Linked DNA regions of Homo sapiens. The protein of the gene in region 1 purifies or fractionates together with the protein of each later gene. This does not show direct contact. Each region holds a gene or a part of one and is shown on either strand. Other genes may lie near its edges.

Region 1 (3,891 bases):
TGAGTTTGTTTTCTATTAATAGTGCAATATTTTCTTTCTTTTTTTTTTTTGAGACGGAGTCTTGCTCTGTCACCCAGGCTGGAGTACAGTGGGGCCATCTCGGCTCACTGCAAGCTCTGCCTCCTGGGTTCACGCCATTCTCCCGCCTCAGCCTCCTGAGTAGCTGGGACTAGAGGCGCCCGCCACCACGCCCGGCTAATTTTTTGTATATTTAGTAGAGACGGGGTCTCACCGTGTTAGCCAGGATGGTCTTGATCTCCTGACCTCATGATCTGCCTGCCTCAGCCTCCCAAAGTGCTGGGATTACAGGAATGAGTCACCGCGCCTGGCCAATAGGACAATATTTTCTTGAATATTGGTCTTCTCTTAATTACAAAAGTTTTTTTTTTTTTTTTTTTTTTTTTTAACATTTTAAGTAATTGGCCTAGAAAACAATGATTTTGTGTTTTATCAGGATAACTTATTAAGCTTCATGCTGTCTCTAGTCTTTGATTAGTTAAGAAAAGTGAGTCTTTAACATTAAAAAAGGGCCGGCTACAGGGGCTCGCGCCTGTAATCTCAGCACTGTGGGAGGCCAAGGCAGGCGGATCACTTGAGGAGTTCAAGACCAGCCTGGCCAACATAGTGAAACCCTGTCTCTACCAAAAATCCAAAAAATTAGTTGGGCATGGTGGCACATGCCAGTAATCCCAGCTACTCGGGAGGCTGAGGCAGGAGAATTGCTTCAACCCAGGAGGCAAAGGTTGCAGTGAGCCCAGATCGCACCCCTGCACTCCAATCTGGGTGACAGAGTGCGTGAGGCTCCGTTTCAAAAAATAAATAAAATAAAAATAATATTTAAAAAGGAAAGTTCTTTATTACAATCTGGTATCTGTTCCATAAAAACCTGCTGAAAAATGTTAATAAATGGGAGGAGGCCGGGCACAGTGGCTCACGCCTGTAATCCCAGCACTTTGGGAGGCCAAGACGGGTGGATCACCTGAGGTCAGGAGTTCGAGACCAGCCTGGCCAACATGGTGAAACCCCATCTCTACTAAAAATACAAAAATTAGCTGGGCGTGGTGACAGGCGCCTGTAATCCCAGCTACTCAGGAGGCTGAGGCAAGAGAACTGCTTGAACCCAGGAGGCGGAGGTTGCAGTGAGTTGAGATCATGCTATTGCACTCCAGCCTGGGCGACAGAGTGAAACTCCATCTCAGAAAAAATAAATAAATGAGAGGATCAGCCAACGCATCAGCAAATGTCAGCCGGACGGTTTAATTTCCACTCATCCCACGACACGAGGCAACCCTCAAACACACAGGTCCTGGCCATGAAGCCTTCAGGGAATCACAGGACTGGGTGCTGACCCAGAAAACTCTACAAAGCTTTGTGACCAAAGAGGTTCGAGTCCCAAGTCCCCTTCAGGAAGAGCTGCAGTCTGCTCATGTGTCTAAGTTTGCCTCTGTTGCTTATAACAACATACCGGAAACTGGGTAAATTATAAAGGAAAGGCATTTATTTCTCACAGTTATGAGGCTGGATAAATCCAGGGTCGAGTGGCCACAATGGCTTTCTTGCTGGCGGGGACTTTTCAGGGTTCCCAGGTGGCACAGGCCATCGTGTAGTGAGGGGGCTGAGCGTGTTGGCCCAGGTCTCTCTTCTTCTTATAAAACCTATCCCTTGAAAACCCACTAATCTATTAACGGATTAACCCACTTACGAGGGCAGAGCTTTCATGACCCAATCACCTCTTCAAGGCCCGTCTCTCAATACTACTACATTGAGGATTGTTTTAACCTAAGTATTGAAGGGGATAAATATTCAAACCATAGCAAATCAAAAACATGTGAGAGTCGAAGCCACCAAGAATCTGACAGGTTGCATGAAAGCGCACATTAGTGTCCATCCACAGTGGCCATGTACCCAAGACAACCACTGCTGCCCCGGAAGAAGCTGAGAGGTCACTGGCCACACACTGAGGAGCTGTGTGTGTGGTGAGCTGCATGCTGGCTGTGGGTTTCGTTTCCACTGACCCAGGTCTCTGAGCCTCTCAAGAACCCCCGCGTCAACACAGTCCTTGTGGAAGAACAGGCTGAGCCCAGGAAAAGGAGGAGGCCCCGACAGACAACATGCTGTAAAAACCATGGCTCATAAGTAAAGAATGTGAAATGGGTATATAAATATAAAATCATAAAAAATGAGGCCAGCAGGAATTGTTACTGCTGTGGCCATGTGGAGAAGCAGCCGCCACTCGTCACCAACCCCCACCAGCAGGACAGGAAGCAGCCAGGTTCTGAGGACACCCAGGCATACCTGGGGAGGAGGAGGCAGGTGTGAGAGCCCAAGGATGGAGGAGACAGAGATCAAGGGAGGGGAGTGGAGAAGGCAGAGAGGTATGCACCAGGAGAGGCCATCGACTGGTGGGAGCTTGCTGTGTCTGGGGTCACCAGCACCAGACTGAGCCCTGACCTCAGCAGGAGGGGTGGGGAGGAAGCTGACTCTGACCCCATCAGCAGCAGCTCACCTCAAGGGGCCGGCCGCCCACCCTGAATGGCTTCCTGTGACCCACTGTGGTCACCCAGGCAACAGCTCCGTTCTTCCCAGACAGGAGAAGCCATTAGTGCACTTCTGAGTGGCCCACTCCTTCACCTGCCAGAAACTGACTTCTCAACCATAATTCCCTTTATGATTCTTAAGCATTTTATTCAGGGTAAAAATTAATTCAGTGAGATTTGTTTCCTATAAAAAGTAAATATAAAGACATTACTTTAAAAAAAAATAGAGACAGCTTCTTGCTCTGTTGTCTGTGTTGTCCAGGCTGGAGTGCAGTGGTGCCATCATGGCTCACTGCAGCCTTGAACTGGGCTCAAGCAATCCTCCTGCCTCAGCCTCCTGAGAAGCTGGGACTATAGGTGTGTGTCACCACACCAGGTTAAGTTAAAAAGTTTTTTTGGTGTCTTGCTATGTTAATCAGGCTTGTCTTGAACTCCTGCCTTCAAGTTACCCTCCTGCCTCGATCTCCCAAAGTGCTGGGGTTACAGGCATGAGCCCATTGCACCAGGCATAAAGACATTACTTTAAGACTGTCCCAACCAATAAACAGTTATTAATTATTTAAATATCCAAGACGAGGAAATGACCTTAAAGAGTTTAGAAAATGGAAGAAATCTAGTCAAAAAGATCCAAAAGAAAAAAGTGACCAGGCTGTTTATCTCATCAGTCCAAAAAGTTATTTGGACTAGAACAAGGACCTACTTATATCAGAAAGAAAATGAAAAGGAAAGATATAGGCACCTTTTAAGATACAACTGACGTCTACACCATCAATATTGACATCAGAGGAACCTACTTCTCTGCTCTCTGCCGTGGATGCCAAAACTGCTCGGTTCAGACCTTCTGGAGCATAACACAGTGATTATTCATTTAGTTTCTTAGAACAGGTCTGCCTTGAATATCTGCTGAGGACCACGAACAGCGAGCTCCCACCAGAGCTCCAGCTCCCGCAGCAGAGGGCAGCATCGCAGGGCAGCTGAGCCGAGACCACAGAGCGAGGTGGAATGCTGCAGCCACACAGGGCCTTGGACCCTCCGAGGAGGGTCAGTGCCCACATGACGCTGTGAGCAAGAACCCATTTGTGGACACTGTCTGGTTTCCTCTGACAAAGAGAAACAAGCAAGAAGGGGTTAGGTGTAAAATGGGTTGTGATTAACCATATCCCACATGACACAACCGACACAGGAATGAGAAAGTGGGCTAAAATAGTGTCATTTGGTCATAGGAGATGGTGATTCCCATTTTATATGAGTGGCTTGAAGTTAACCCTCAAATGCTGGTGAAATATTTTATTCCCACCAACAAAACGGTCACTAGAACATTGTTTGTAGTAGCAAAATACTGTCGGCTACCTAA
Region 2 (4,327 bases), on another chromosome or scaffold:
CACAGTTTCTTCATCTACAGGACTTGATTCATTCTCCCAAGGCCTCCTTTCTTAAGTGACTTGATTTTAACCAGGCATCCTTTGTCAATCGCCCTACCTGGAAAGACTCAGGCCAGAATGACAGAAGAACCTTCATTTTTTGCTCAAATGGAGTAGCATCTAAAGACAAATTGTTAAAAATGATGCAGACAATATCTTAACTAGTAATAAAACACCTATGTTAATACTAGGTGTTTTATATATTTCATATATATATGAAATAAGTAACAAAATAAAGATACATTTTGTTCTGGTATTGTAATAACAAGCTGATGAAAGAGCTTTCCAGGTTGAGGAAAAGGAATGAACCTTTCAGACAGAAGTGGAAAGAAAAATCAGTGAAGGAAGGGATGTATGTGGACGAGGATTTAGCTTGAGAAATAGCCCAAGAAAGAAACCTCCATCAAATTATTAGGAAAGGGCAAACTCTGTGAGGGGAATAGAAATAGAAAGGGACTTAATACAGAAAATTAGGTGTTGACAAAATCATTGAAAGAGCTAGAGGAGCACAAGTCAGGTGCCTCTGGAGCTATGGTGTTCAAGAGCATACAACCATAGCTCTTTTCTGGGTTAAAAGGAGCGCCTCTGCTAGCTCCTGCCTCTAATTTCCTCTCAATACCCATGAGGCTATCCATGACTCCGGAACACGAAGTGAGCGTGCCAAGTAGAAAAGACGGCAGGAAGATGGCCTCTGTCTCATTTCCAGCTAATTAGTTTTGGTTCTGTTCCTGTTTATATCATTGTTTTCATGGAAAAGTTCACCTTAAGTTCTAAATCATTAACTTAGAAACCAATCTTTCAAAAATATTCCATTTGTAATCTGGAGTCCTTGTATCCTTAAACCAACCAACAGGACAAACAAAAATCATCTCCCTAAATAAAAACTAAATAAAATGAGTCCTTGGGATATGTTCCATAGTTGTTAATTTCATTTCTTCCTCAAATATCTTTACACATGTAATACTATTTCTACCATCATTACATGGCAATGCATAATTTCATTTACAGAACTTGAAAAAAACTAGAAAACAAGGCTTTGTGATAACATTACCAAGAAACGTTTTATCAGAAAAGCTTGCTTTTTACAACAATGGGTTGGGTTGCACCAATTTTTTGCTTATTTTTGTCTTCTTGACTAATTCTTCTTTGGTGCTAATGTAGTAGGAAATGCCTATCTCCGGTGTGATTTTCAATTATTGTGTATGGGGGCTTAGAATACATTAATAAATCTTGAGGCAAAAACAGAATGATAAAAATAACACTTCAAAGGAGTACAGGAGAATGAACTTTCATGACATTCAATGAAGGAGGCAGGTATGCAAAGTGATATGTTTTCTAAGATGTACTTTTCATTTTTTGTTTTATCCTTTTACTTTGTACCATAAGCAATTTTGGAAAGACCACAACTATTAGTGATGTCTACATAATCATACTAATGAAGTACACAGAAGCTTAAATGAAGTATTTTTATATGCTCCCTTACAACTATTTGAAAATTTACTTTGGAAACCCCTGCTCAAATGCAACCCCTCCCCACCCCCAAAGGAATTCTTGTGCTGTCTTCTTCACTTTTCCAGTTAAGCAATTTAAGTTAGAGGAAATCAAGCCCTTGAGCAAATGAATAGTTAACGGGAAAAACCACTAGGAAGGGAATCCGAAGAACAAGCTACCAAATTATTTGCTTGAGTCACTTTCTCTTATATTGTCACAGATGAAAAATTACACTCCACGTGGTGATCAAACCTAACGCTAAGGCATATTTTGTGTGCCACACAGTATTACTCTGTTTCCTAAGTAACCTATTGAAACAATGTAAGGTATACATCTATTAATGCATTTAGTGATGATACTGGAATTTGTGAAACGTGACAGAAAGGACAGATGAAGAAAGATGAGGAGAGACAGGTATTAATTGTCCTAACAGTACAGGCTGTAATAAAGGCCAATAATCATTTGAATTCCTGCTCCTTAATGTGAGTCTAAAGAGCGGCTTACCTCAGGTATTTGGAAAGTCTAAATACTGTATTTGCTGTAGAAAATTCATCCAACATACAATTCAATTTTTAAAATTAAACCTTTTGCCTAATCTTTAAGATATTTGATGTTATAATGCCCATTATCACACTTTATTTAAATGAGATAAACTCAGAGAGTTTAAAAAATTACGCAACTTCTCTTTTCCCTTACTATGGCTGGCCTCTTATAACCGAAAGCAATATTCTTGCCTCTCCACTTTTTAACTGAAGCTTTGATCTCATCTGTATTTATGAAGAACGTGCTCTGGGAGAGTCCCTGTCAAGACATTCATTGTAACACCCGCTCCTACTCATGCTTTCAGCGCTGCCCGTGGACGGAATCCACCCACACCTTCCAGACACGCTAGGTGTGGGCTCGGAAACGCAAGATGGAGGGCGGGAGGGGAGCCGGCGTCTCCTAAACCTGGCGCAGGGCACGGACTCGAAGTTGAAAAAGAAGTGTTTACAAGTGAGGCTTTTAAATAAATCACCGCTATGGAGGGCATTTCCTCCGAGCCCTGGGCGCCAGCCTGAGAATCCTCTGCCGGACGCCAGGGGACGAACCACGCTGACCCCGCCAGACACGCGACCCCGGGGCCGGCGCTGGCGTCTGCACTCGCGCGACCCCGCCGCTCCTCCTGGGAGCGCCGTCTAACCGCTCCCGGCGACGACTTCCCAGAGCGCCGGGGAGCCAGTGCCCACGCGGGGCAGAGCTGCGGCGCGGCCCGCGGGCCGGGCCCCTTCCCTCCAACGCCGGGCGGGGCTCGCGGCCCCCGACCCGGCCGCTTCGCCGCCGCCCCTCCCCGCGCTCACCTGCTCGCTCTCCTTCGGCCGCTGTCCGCGCCGCCGCGGGCTCGCCCCGGGATCCCACCCGGTCCCTGCCGCCTCCCGCTCCGCCAGCGCGTCCCCGTCCTCGTCGCGTTCCCCGCCGTCGCCGCCCCGCAGCAGCTCCCCGGCTGAGCACATCCCGCAGCCAACTCCTACCGCCCCGGACAGCCGCCGGAGGACCACGCCGCGACGCACCAGGCAGCGCCGCCGCCCGAAGGCTGCCCTGGGATCCGCCGCACCCGCCGCTGACAGGAGCCGCCGGAGCGCGCCCCGCCGGCCTGGGCGCCTGAAGTACCAGCCCGGCCCCTCCTGTCACTGGCTCGCCCAACCCCCGGCCGTCGGGGCGGAGCCGTACAGGGGAGGGGCCAAGACAGGGGGCGGGGCCAACGGTGTGTTGGGGGGCGGGGGTGTGTGTGTGAGATTGAGAGAGAGGCCGACAGACTGAGAGAAGAAGGGTGTTGTGTGAAAAACTATGGACATACACTGCATGAGGGAGATTGTACATGAGAGAGGCTGTGTGTATGTATGAGGGATATTGTGTGTGCGTAAGAGACCGTTAGAGAGTGTGAGAGAGACGCTGAGCGTGATTTGTGTGTGTGTGTGAGAGAGATTCTATATAAAAGAAACTGCGTATAAGAGATTGTATGCACTTTGGGAGGCCGAGGCGGGCAGATAGCTTGAGCCCAGGAGTTGGAGACCAGCCTGGGCAACCCCATCTCTACTAAAAATAGAATTAGGCGGGCGTGGTGGCGGCAGTGTGGTCCCAGCTACTCAGGAGGCTGAGGTGGGAGGATCGTCTCAGCGCGGGAAGTCGAGGCTGCAGTGAGCAGAGATCACACCACTGCACTCCAGCGTGGGCGACAGAACCAGACCCCGTTTCAGAGAGAGAGAGAGAGAGAGAGAGGAGGGGGGGGGGAAAGAGAGAGAGAGAGAGAGAGAGAGAGAGATTGAGATTGTATGTGTATGCAAGAGACTGTGAGAGAGAGATTGTATGAGGGAACAACAGAAACTGAGAGAGATCAAGTGTGAAAGAGAAATTACTTGTGTGAGAGAGCCAGTGCATATATTTAAGAGAGAGCGCATTTGTATAAGAGATTAGTGTGTGTGGGTTTGTATGTGAGAGAGAAACACACACATGCACCCAGTTACACTCTCCAGCAGAGTACCCCTGTTCTTGCCTGAGTATCTGCCCGTCCTTTTCAAGGAAGACACATTTCACTGTCCCTCTTGTTCCTTTAGCCTCCTTTCCTAGTGTCTCACTGAAGGTCTGTGTATTTGTCCCTTTCTGTTGAGTGCTTCCTAGTGTGTGTTGTTTGTTGGAGCCTTGGGTCGTTTGATGGTGTATCAAATGATGTATCTTTCTGTAACTGGGTAAGAATATGTCTTTCTCAGTGGGTGGTGAGGGGAATATATCCAATTGATAATTATTTTTTGTACTACTCCAT
Region 3 (3,878 bases), on another chromosome or scaffold:
TGTAGAAAGGTTTTGAAAGGGGGAAAATCACTAAAAATTATTTGAATGATTTACTTAATTTTTTTAGATGACAGAACAATTTTGACTCAAGGTTGCATATTAACAAATATAATGGCTGCTACTACAACAGTGCTATGAATTTTTTTAATAGGAGAAATAATCCAATTTCTTCAACAAGAAAATGGCAAGACAAAAGAGAGGAAAAAGGAACTGTTATAGATTTTATGACTTTGAATTCACTAAAAAACAAGCATAAGAAAATTCACAGCAACACATATGTAATAGCAAAACCCTGCAAAAAACCCGAATGTCCATCAAGAGTACAATGGATAAACTGCACATACTCATACAATAGAATAAAATTATGGAATCATACAACATAATGGATAAATCCTTAAAACATACTGAGCAAACTAAACTATAAGGGTACATACTATAGGATTCCATTTCTATAGAAACAATTTATGGTGTTAGAGGTCAAGATCCTTTTTGGGTGAGAGGACTAGAAGAGAACATGAAAAGAACTAATGATGTTGTTTCCTTATCTTGGTGCTGTTACATAGCAATGATCAGTATATTAAAATTCATCATGCTGTATGCTTATGACTAGTATAATTTTTATACATTATTTTTCTGTAAAGTTTATTTAAAAAGAAACAAAAAAATTTAAGAGACACAGTAATTGTGAACCTTACTCAGAAACTGATTTAAATAAACTGCCTATAAAAAGACCTTTATAAGACAATCAACAAAATTTGAACACAGACAAGGTACTAGGTAATATCGAAAATTTAAATTTATCAATTTTATTATGTTTTTAAGACACAGTGTCTCACTGTGTTGCCCAGGCTGAACTTGAACATCTAGGCTCAAGTGATCCTCCAACCTCAGCATTTTTATTAAAATTAAAAAAAAAATTTTTTTTGTGGGTACATAGTAGGTACATATATTTATGGGGTACATGAGATATTTTGATACAAGCATGCAACGCAAAATAAACACATCATGAAAAATGGAGTATCCATTCCCTCAGGCATTTATCCTTTGAGTTACAAACAATCCAATTACGTTCTAAGTTACTTTAAAATGTATAATTAAGTTATTATTGACTATAGTCACCCTGTTGTGCTGTCAAATAGTAGGTCTTATTCATTTTATTTTTTTTTACCCATTAACCATCCCCACCTCCCCCACAATCGCCCGTTACCCTTCCCAGCCTCTGGTAACCATCGTTCTGCTCTCTACGTCCATTAGTTCAATTGTTTTGATTTTTAGCTCCCACAAATGAGTGAAAGCATGCGACGTTTATCTTTCTGTGCCTGGCTTATTTCACTTAACATAATAATCTCCAGTTCCACCCATGTTGCAAATGACAGGATATCATTTTTTTTACGGCTGAATATTACCCCATTGTGTATATATACCACATTTTTCTTTTTTTTTTTTTTTTTTGAGACGCAGTTTCGCTCTTGTTGCCCCAGGCTGGAGTGCAATGGCGCGATCTCGGTTCACTGCAACCTCCGCCTCCCAGGTTCAAACAATTCTCCTGCCTCAGCCTCCCGAGTAGCTGGGATTACAGGCATGCACCACCATGCCCAGCTAATTTTGTATTTTTAGTAGAGACAGGGTTTCTCCATGTTGAGGCTGGTCTCGAACTCCTGACCTCAGGTAATCAGCCCGCCTCGGCCTCCGAAAGTGCTGGGATTACAGGCGTGAGCCACCACACCAGGCTTTTTTTTTTTTTTTTTTTTTTTTTTTTTTTGAGAGGGAGTCTCGCTCTGTCACCCAGGCTGGAGTGCAGTGGCGCGATCTCGGCTCACTGTAAGCTCCGCCTCCCGAGTTCACGCCATTCTCCTGCTTCAGCCTCAGGAGTAGCTGGGACTATAGGCGCCCGCCACCACGCCCGGCTAACTTTTTGTATTTTTAGTAGAGACGGAGTTTCACCTTGTTAGCCAGGATGGTCTCGATCTCCTGACCTCATGATCCGCCCGCCTTGTCCTCCCAAAGTGCTGGGATTACAGGCGTGAGCCACCGCGCCCAGCCACCACATTTTCTTTATCCATTCATCTGTTGATGGACACTTATGTTGCTTTCAAATCTTAGCTATTGTATACAGTGCTGCAATAAACGTAAGAGTACAGATATCTCTTCAATATATTGATTTCCTGTCTTTTGGGTATATACCCAGGCAGTGGGATTACTGGATCACATGCTAGCTCAATTTTTAGTTTTTGGGGGAACCTCCAAACTGTTCTCCATAGAGCTTATACTAATTTACATTCCCAAAAACAGTGTGCAGGGTTCCCTTTTCTCCACATCCTTGCCAGCATTTGTTATGGCATGTCTTTTGGATATAAGCCATTTTAACTGTGGTGAGATGATGTCTCATTGTAGTTTTGATTTGCATTTTTCTGATGTTGCACCTTTTCATATGCCTGTTTGCCATTTGCACGGGTCTTTTGAGAAATCTCTACTCAAATCTTTTGCCCATTTTTTGATTGGATTATTAGACTTTTTCCTAATTAGAGTTGTTTGAGCTCCTTATATATTCTGGTTATTAATCCCTTGTCAGATGGGTAGTTTGCCAATATTTTCTACCCTTCTGTGTACTCTCGCTTCACTTTGTTGATTGTATCCTTTGCTGTGCCACCTCAGCCTTCTGAGTAGCTGAAACTACAAGCGTGTGCCACCACGCCCAGCTGGTTCTATATTTTTAAAAAGTCCTTAGAGAAACATACTGAGGTATTTAAAGATGAAATGATATTATTTAAAATATACTGAAGTATACTGAGAGTGGGAGGGGATATAGATAAAACAAGACTGGCTATGTGTTGACAATTGTTGAAGCTGGAGGATGGGTACATGGGAATTCGTTGTACTACTCTTTCTCCTTTTGTAAATGTTAAAAATATTCTATAATAGAAAGTTTTTTAAAAAAAATTTGGATTTCTTGGGAGGCCAAGGTAGGAGGATTCCTTGAGCCCAGGAGTTCAAGACCAACCTGGCAACATGGCGAAATCCCATCTCTACTAAAAATATAAAAATTAGCTGGGCGTGGTGGCATCCACCTGTGGTCCCAGAAACTTGGGAGGCTGAGATAGGACGATGGCTTGAGCCTGGAAGTCTGAGGCTGCAGTGAGCCCTGGTTGTACCACTGTACTCCACCCTGGGTAACAGAGCCAAACCCTATCCCAAAAGAAAAAAATATATATGGATTTCAAATACATGTTAATTATCCTTGCCATGATTCATCATATAGTACTAATCCAGAATAATCTACCCCATTTAAATCATTACAAATTATATTTATAAAACAGGCTGGGCACAGTGGCTCACACCTGTAATCCCAGCACTTTGGGAGGCCAAGGTGGGCAGATCACGAGGTCAGGAGTTTGAGACCAGCCTGGCCAATATGGTGAAACCCTGTCTCTACTAAAAATACAAAAATTAGCTAGGTGTGGTGGCAGGTGCCTGTAGTCCCAGCTACTTGGGAGGTTGAGGCAGGACAATCACTTGAACCCAGGAGGCGGAGCTTGCAGTGAGCTGAGATCACACCACTACGCTCCCGCCTGGGCAACAGAGCGAGACTCTGTCTCAAAAAAAAAAAAACATAAGTTTATAGATATTTTAGCAAGATCATTGTACTTCTGAGTTATTTTGAAATAAAGAAAAATTTAAAAGAAATGCTTGATTCACTATAAAATACAATCATACATGTAATTTAATTAATACAGTAATTATAAAACACAAAAGACCACCTATTTTACAAGTGATTTGTTCAAGCTGCATAATACACATAACGTATCCTTGCTTTGAAGAGAAATAAAATGTTGTGACCTATTATCAACAAATCTAACCCCAAAGATCCAGTAAATAGA
Region 4 (3,878 bases), on another chromosome or scaffold:
ATTGCCTTTATATTGTGTAGACTATTTTGTATAATTTGTTGAGTTGCAGATTTTGTGATATGTAGCTGTTCTCAATCTACTGCTATGTAAAAGCCCTTCTCATTGAACAGCAGATGTATTGTGTGTTGGGGAAGATGGACTCTAACTACAGTATGCATACTTTGGAAAATTAACTTATAAGTACATTTAGGGAAGATGGAAAGTTTATGGGGACATACATGGCATGACTAGAAATCAAAACTAGCTAGTGGACAGAAGGTGAGAGTACATAAAGGTGTTACCAATTTGTCTTTTTATGAAAACTCAAAATTCAATTTATATTTTCACTTTCTTGGGAGTTAGGTGTATTACGATTGTGATATAATTATATGCCACAATTATACCATTGTATAGCATAATAATGATGTGGTAAACCAAAATAAGAGAGTTGAGAAACGTATTTTTCTTAACGACTTGGGTGTTGAACCTGTCATAAGTGGTGCTTATTTATCTGAACATCAGCATTTCTTTCATTTTAGGATTCTGGATGGAGAACAGCCATTTGCCCAGATTATTGTCCTAACATGTATGAAGAAATGGAAACATTAGCCAGTGTACTTCAGTCAGATATTGGTCAAGACATGCGTGTTCATAACAGCACATTTCTATGGTTCATCCCTTTTGTCCAGTCCCTCATGGATCTTAAGGATTTGGGTGTGGCTTACATAGCACAGGTTGTTAATCATCTGTACTCTGAAGTCAAAGAAGTCCTCAACCAAACAGATGCTGTGTGTGACAAAGTCACTGAATTTTTTCTTCTAATTTTGGTATCAGTGATTGAACTGCATAGAAATAAAAAATGTTTGCATTTGCTGTGGGTAAGTTCCCAGCAATGGGTGGAAGCCGTCGTCAAATGTGCCAAGCTTCCTACCACTGCGTTTACACGGAGTTCTGAGAAATCATCTGGAAATTGCTCCAAAGGAACAGCAATGATATCTTCACTGTCATTGCATTCCATGCCATCTAACTCTGTACAACTTGCTTATGTGCAGCTGATTAGAAGTCTCCTTAAAGAAGGTTATCAGCTTGGGCAGCAGTCTCTTTGCAAGCGATTCTGGGATAAGCTCAACTTATTCCTTAGAGGAAATTTATCTCTAGGTTGGCAGTTGACTAGTCAGGAAACCCATGAGCTACAAAGTTGCTTAAAGCAAATTATTAGAAACATAAAATTCAAAGCACCTCCATGTAACACTTTTGTGGATCTGACTTCTGCATGTAAAATCTCTCCTGCATCTTATAATAAAGAAGAAAGTGAACAAATGGGGAAGACGTCTAGAAAAGATATGCATTGTTTGGAAGCTTCCAGCCCAACATTTTCTAAAGAACCAATGAAAGTGCAAGACAGTGTATTGATCAAAGCAGATAACACTATAGAAGGTGACAATAATGAGCAAAATTATATAAAGGATGTGAAACTAGAGGACCATCTCTTAGCTGGGTCATGCTTAAAGCAGAGTAGTAAAAACATTTTTACTGAAAGAGCTGAAGATCAAATTAAAATAAGTACAAGGAAGCAGAAGTCTGTAAAAGAGATCTCTTCATATACACCAAAGGACTGTACTTCAAGAAATGGTCCAGAAAGGGGATGTGACAGAGGAATAATAGTATCAACACGTTTGTTGACTGATTCTAGCACTGATGCTTTGGAAAAAGTGTCCACATCGAATGAAGATTTCTCTTTAAAGGATGATGCTCTTGCTAAAACCTCAAAACGAAAAACTAAGGTACAGAAAGATGAAATCTGTGCAAAGTTATCACATGTAATAAAGAAGCAACACAGGAAGAGTACTTTGGTCGATAATACTATCAATTTAGATGAAAATTTGACTGTATCTAACATTGAGAGTTTCTATTCAAGGAAAGATACAGGAGTTCAGAAAGGAGATGGTTTCATACACAATCTTTCTTTAGACCCTAGTGGTGTTCTGGATGATAAGAATGGAGAACAAAAATCTCAAAACAATGTATTGCCAAAAGAGAAACAATTAAAGAATGAAGAATTAGTTATTTTCTCTTTCCATGAAAACAATTGTAAAATACAGGAATTTCATGTTGATGGTAAAGAATTGATCCCTTTTACAGAAATGACCAATGCTTCAGAGAAGAAATCATCTCCCTTTAAAGATCTTATGACTGTACCTGAATCAAGAGATGAGGAGATGAGTAATAGTACCAGTGTGATTTATTCTAACTTGACAAGAGAACAGGCCCCTGACATCAGTCCTAAATCTGACACCTTAACGGATTCTCAGATAGACAGAGACCTTCACAAATTATCTTTACTAGCTCAAGCCAGTGTTATTACGTTCCCATCCGATTCACCTCAGAACTCATCGCAGCTGCAAAGGAAAGTAAAAGAAGATAAAAGATGTTTCACAGCTAACCAAAATAATGTTGGAGATACCTCCCGTGGACAGGTTATTATTATTTCAGATTCTGATGATGATGATGATGAAAGAATCCTGAGTCTTGAGAAACTCACTAAACAGGACAAAATATGCCTTGAGAGGGAACATCCAGAGCAGCACGTTTCAACAGTTAATAGTAAGGAGGAAAAGAATCCAGTAAAGGAAGAAAAGACAGAGACTCTTTTTCAGTTTGAGGAATCTGATTCTCAGTGTTTTGAGTTTGAAAGTTCATCTGAAGTGTTTTCAGTTTGGCAAGATCATCCAGACGATAATAATTCAGTTCAAGATGGTGAGAAAAAATGTTTGGCTCCTATAGCCAATACTACAAATGGTCAGGGTTGTACAGATTATGTATCTGAAGTTGTTAAAAAAGGAGCAGAGGGCATTGAAGAACACACAAGACCACGGAGTATTTCTGTTGAAGAATTTTGTGAAATTGAAGTAAAAAAGCCTAAGAGAAAACGATCTGAAAAACCAATGGCTGAAGATCCTGTGAGGCCTTCATCTTCTGTCAGAAATGAGGGCCAGTCTGATACTAATAAGAGAGATCTTGTGGGAAATGATTTTAAAAGTATTGATAGAAGGACTTCAACTCCCAATTCACGTATTCAGAGAGCCACTACGGTTTCACAAAAGAAGTCTTCAAAGCTTTGTACTTGTACAGAACCCATCAGGAAAGTTCCAGTTTCTAAGACCCCTAAGAAAACTCATTCAGATGCCAAAAAAGGACAGAATAGAAGTTCAAATTACCTAAGTTGTAGAACAACTCCTGCTATAGTGCCGCCAAAGAAATTTCGTCAGTGTCCTGAGCCAACTTCAACAGCTGAGAAACTTGGCCTGAAAAAGGGTCCTCGTAAGGCATATGAGTTGTCCCAGCGGTCTTTGGATTATGTAGCTCAATTACGTGATCATGGCAAAACTGTTGGAGTAGTTGATACCCGAAAAAAGACTAAATTAATTTCTCCTCAGAACCTGTCTGTCAGAAATAATAAGAAACTTCTGACTAGTCAAGAACTTCAGATGCAAAGGCAGATCAGACCCAAATCACAAAAAAATAGACGAAGACTTTCTGATTGTGAAAGTACAGATGTTAAAAGAGCAGGGTCACATACAGCACAGAATTCTGACATATTTGTACCAGAATCTGATAGGTCAGATTATAATTGTACAGGAGGAACTGAGGTACTTGCCAACAGTAACAGAAAACAGTTAATAAAATGCATGCCTTCTGAACCAGAAACCATAAAAGCAAAACATGGGTCTCCAGCAACTGATGATGCTTGCCCTTTGAACCAGTGTGATTCTGTAGTGTTAAATGGAACAGTACCAACAAATGAAGTAATTGTCTCCACTTCAGAAGACCCTCTGGGTGGAGGTGATCCAACAGCACGTCATATAGAGATGGCAGCTTTGAAAGAAGGAGAGCCTGAC

Evidence for each region. Proteins that work in one complex are often made in the same cells at the same time.
Region 2: the proteins of VIPR2 (region 1) and FAM241A purify together in Homo sapiens (co-immunoprecipitation; 3 studies listed by BioGRID and IntAct, with this or other methods). This does not show direct contact.
Region 3: the proteins of VIPR2 (region 1) and FASTKD1 purify together in Homo sapiens (co-immunoprecipitation; 3 studies listed by BioGRID and IntAct, with this or other methods). This does not show direct contact.
Region 4: the proteins of VIPR2 (region 1) and SETX purify together in Homo sapiens (affinity purification with mass spectrometry; 2 studies listed by BioGRID and IntAct, with this or other methods). This does not show direct contact.

What each region holds. Positions count from the first base shown.
Region 1 is NC_000007.14:159,134,626-159,138,516, forward strand, and holds part of VIPR2 (vasoactive intestinal polypeptide receptor 2 isoform 1 precursor), read right to left. Parts: intron 1-3,891. UniProt on the Homo sapiens protein: G protein-coupled receptor activated by the neuropeptides vasoactive intestinal peptide (VIP) and pituitary adenylate cyclase-activating polypeptide (ADCYAP1/PACAP).
Region 2 is NC_000004.12:112,144,274-112,148,600, reverse strand, and holds the start of FAM241A (uncharacterized protein FAM241A), read right to left. Parts: upstream 3,148-4,327; 5' UTR 3,021-3,147; coding exon 2,868-3,020; intron 1-2,867.
Region 3 is NC_000002.12:169,563,519-169,567,396, forward strand, and holds part of FASTKD1 (FAST kinase domain-containing protein 1, mitochondrial), read right to left. Parts: intron 1-3,878. UniProt on the Homo sapiens protein: Involved in the down-regulation of mitochondrial MT-ND3 mRNA levels which leads to decreased respiratory complex I abundance and activity.
Region 4 is NC_000009.12:132,327,140-132,331,017, reverse strand, and holds part of SETX (probable helicase senataxin), read left to right. Parts: intron 1-518; coding exon 519-3,878. UniProt on the Homo sapiens protein: Probable RNA/DNA helicase involved in diverse aspects of RNA metabolism and genomic integrity.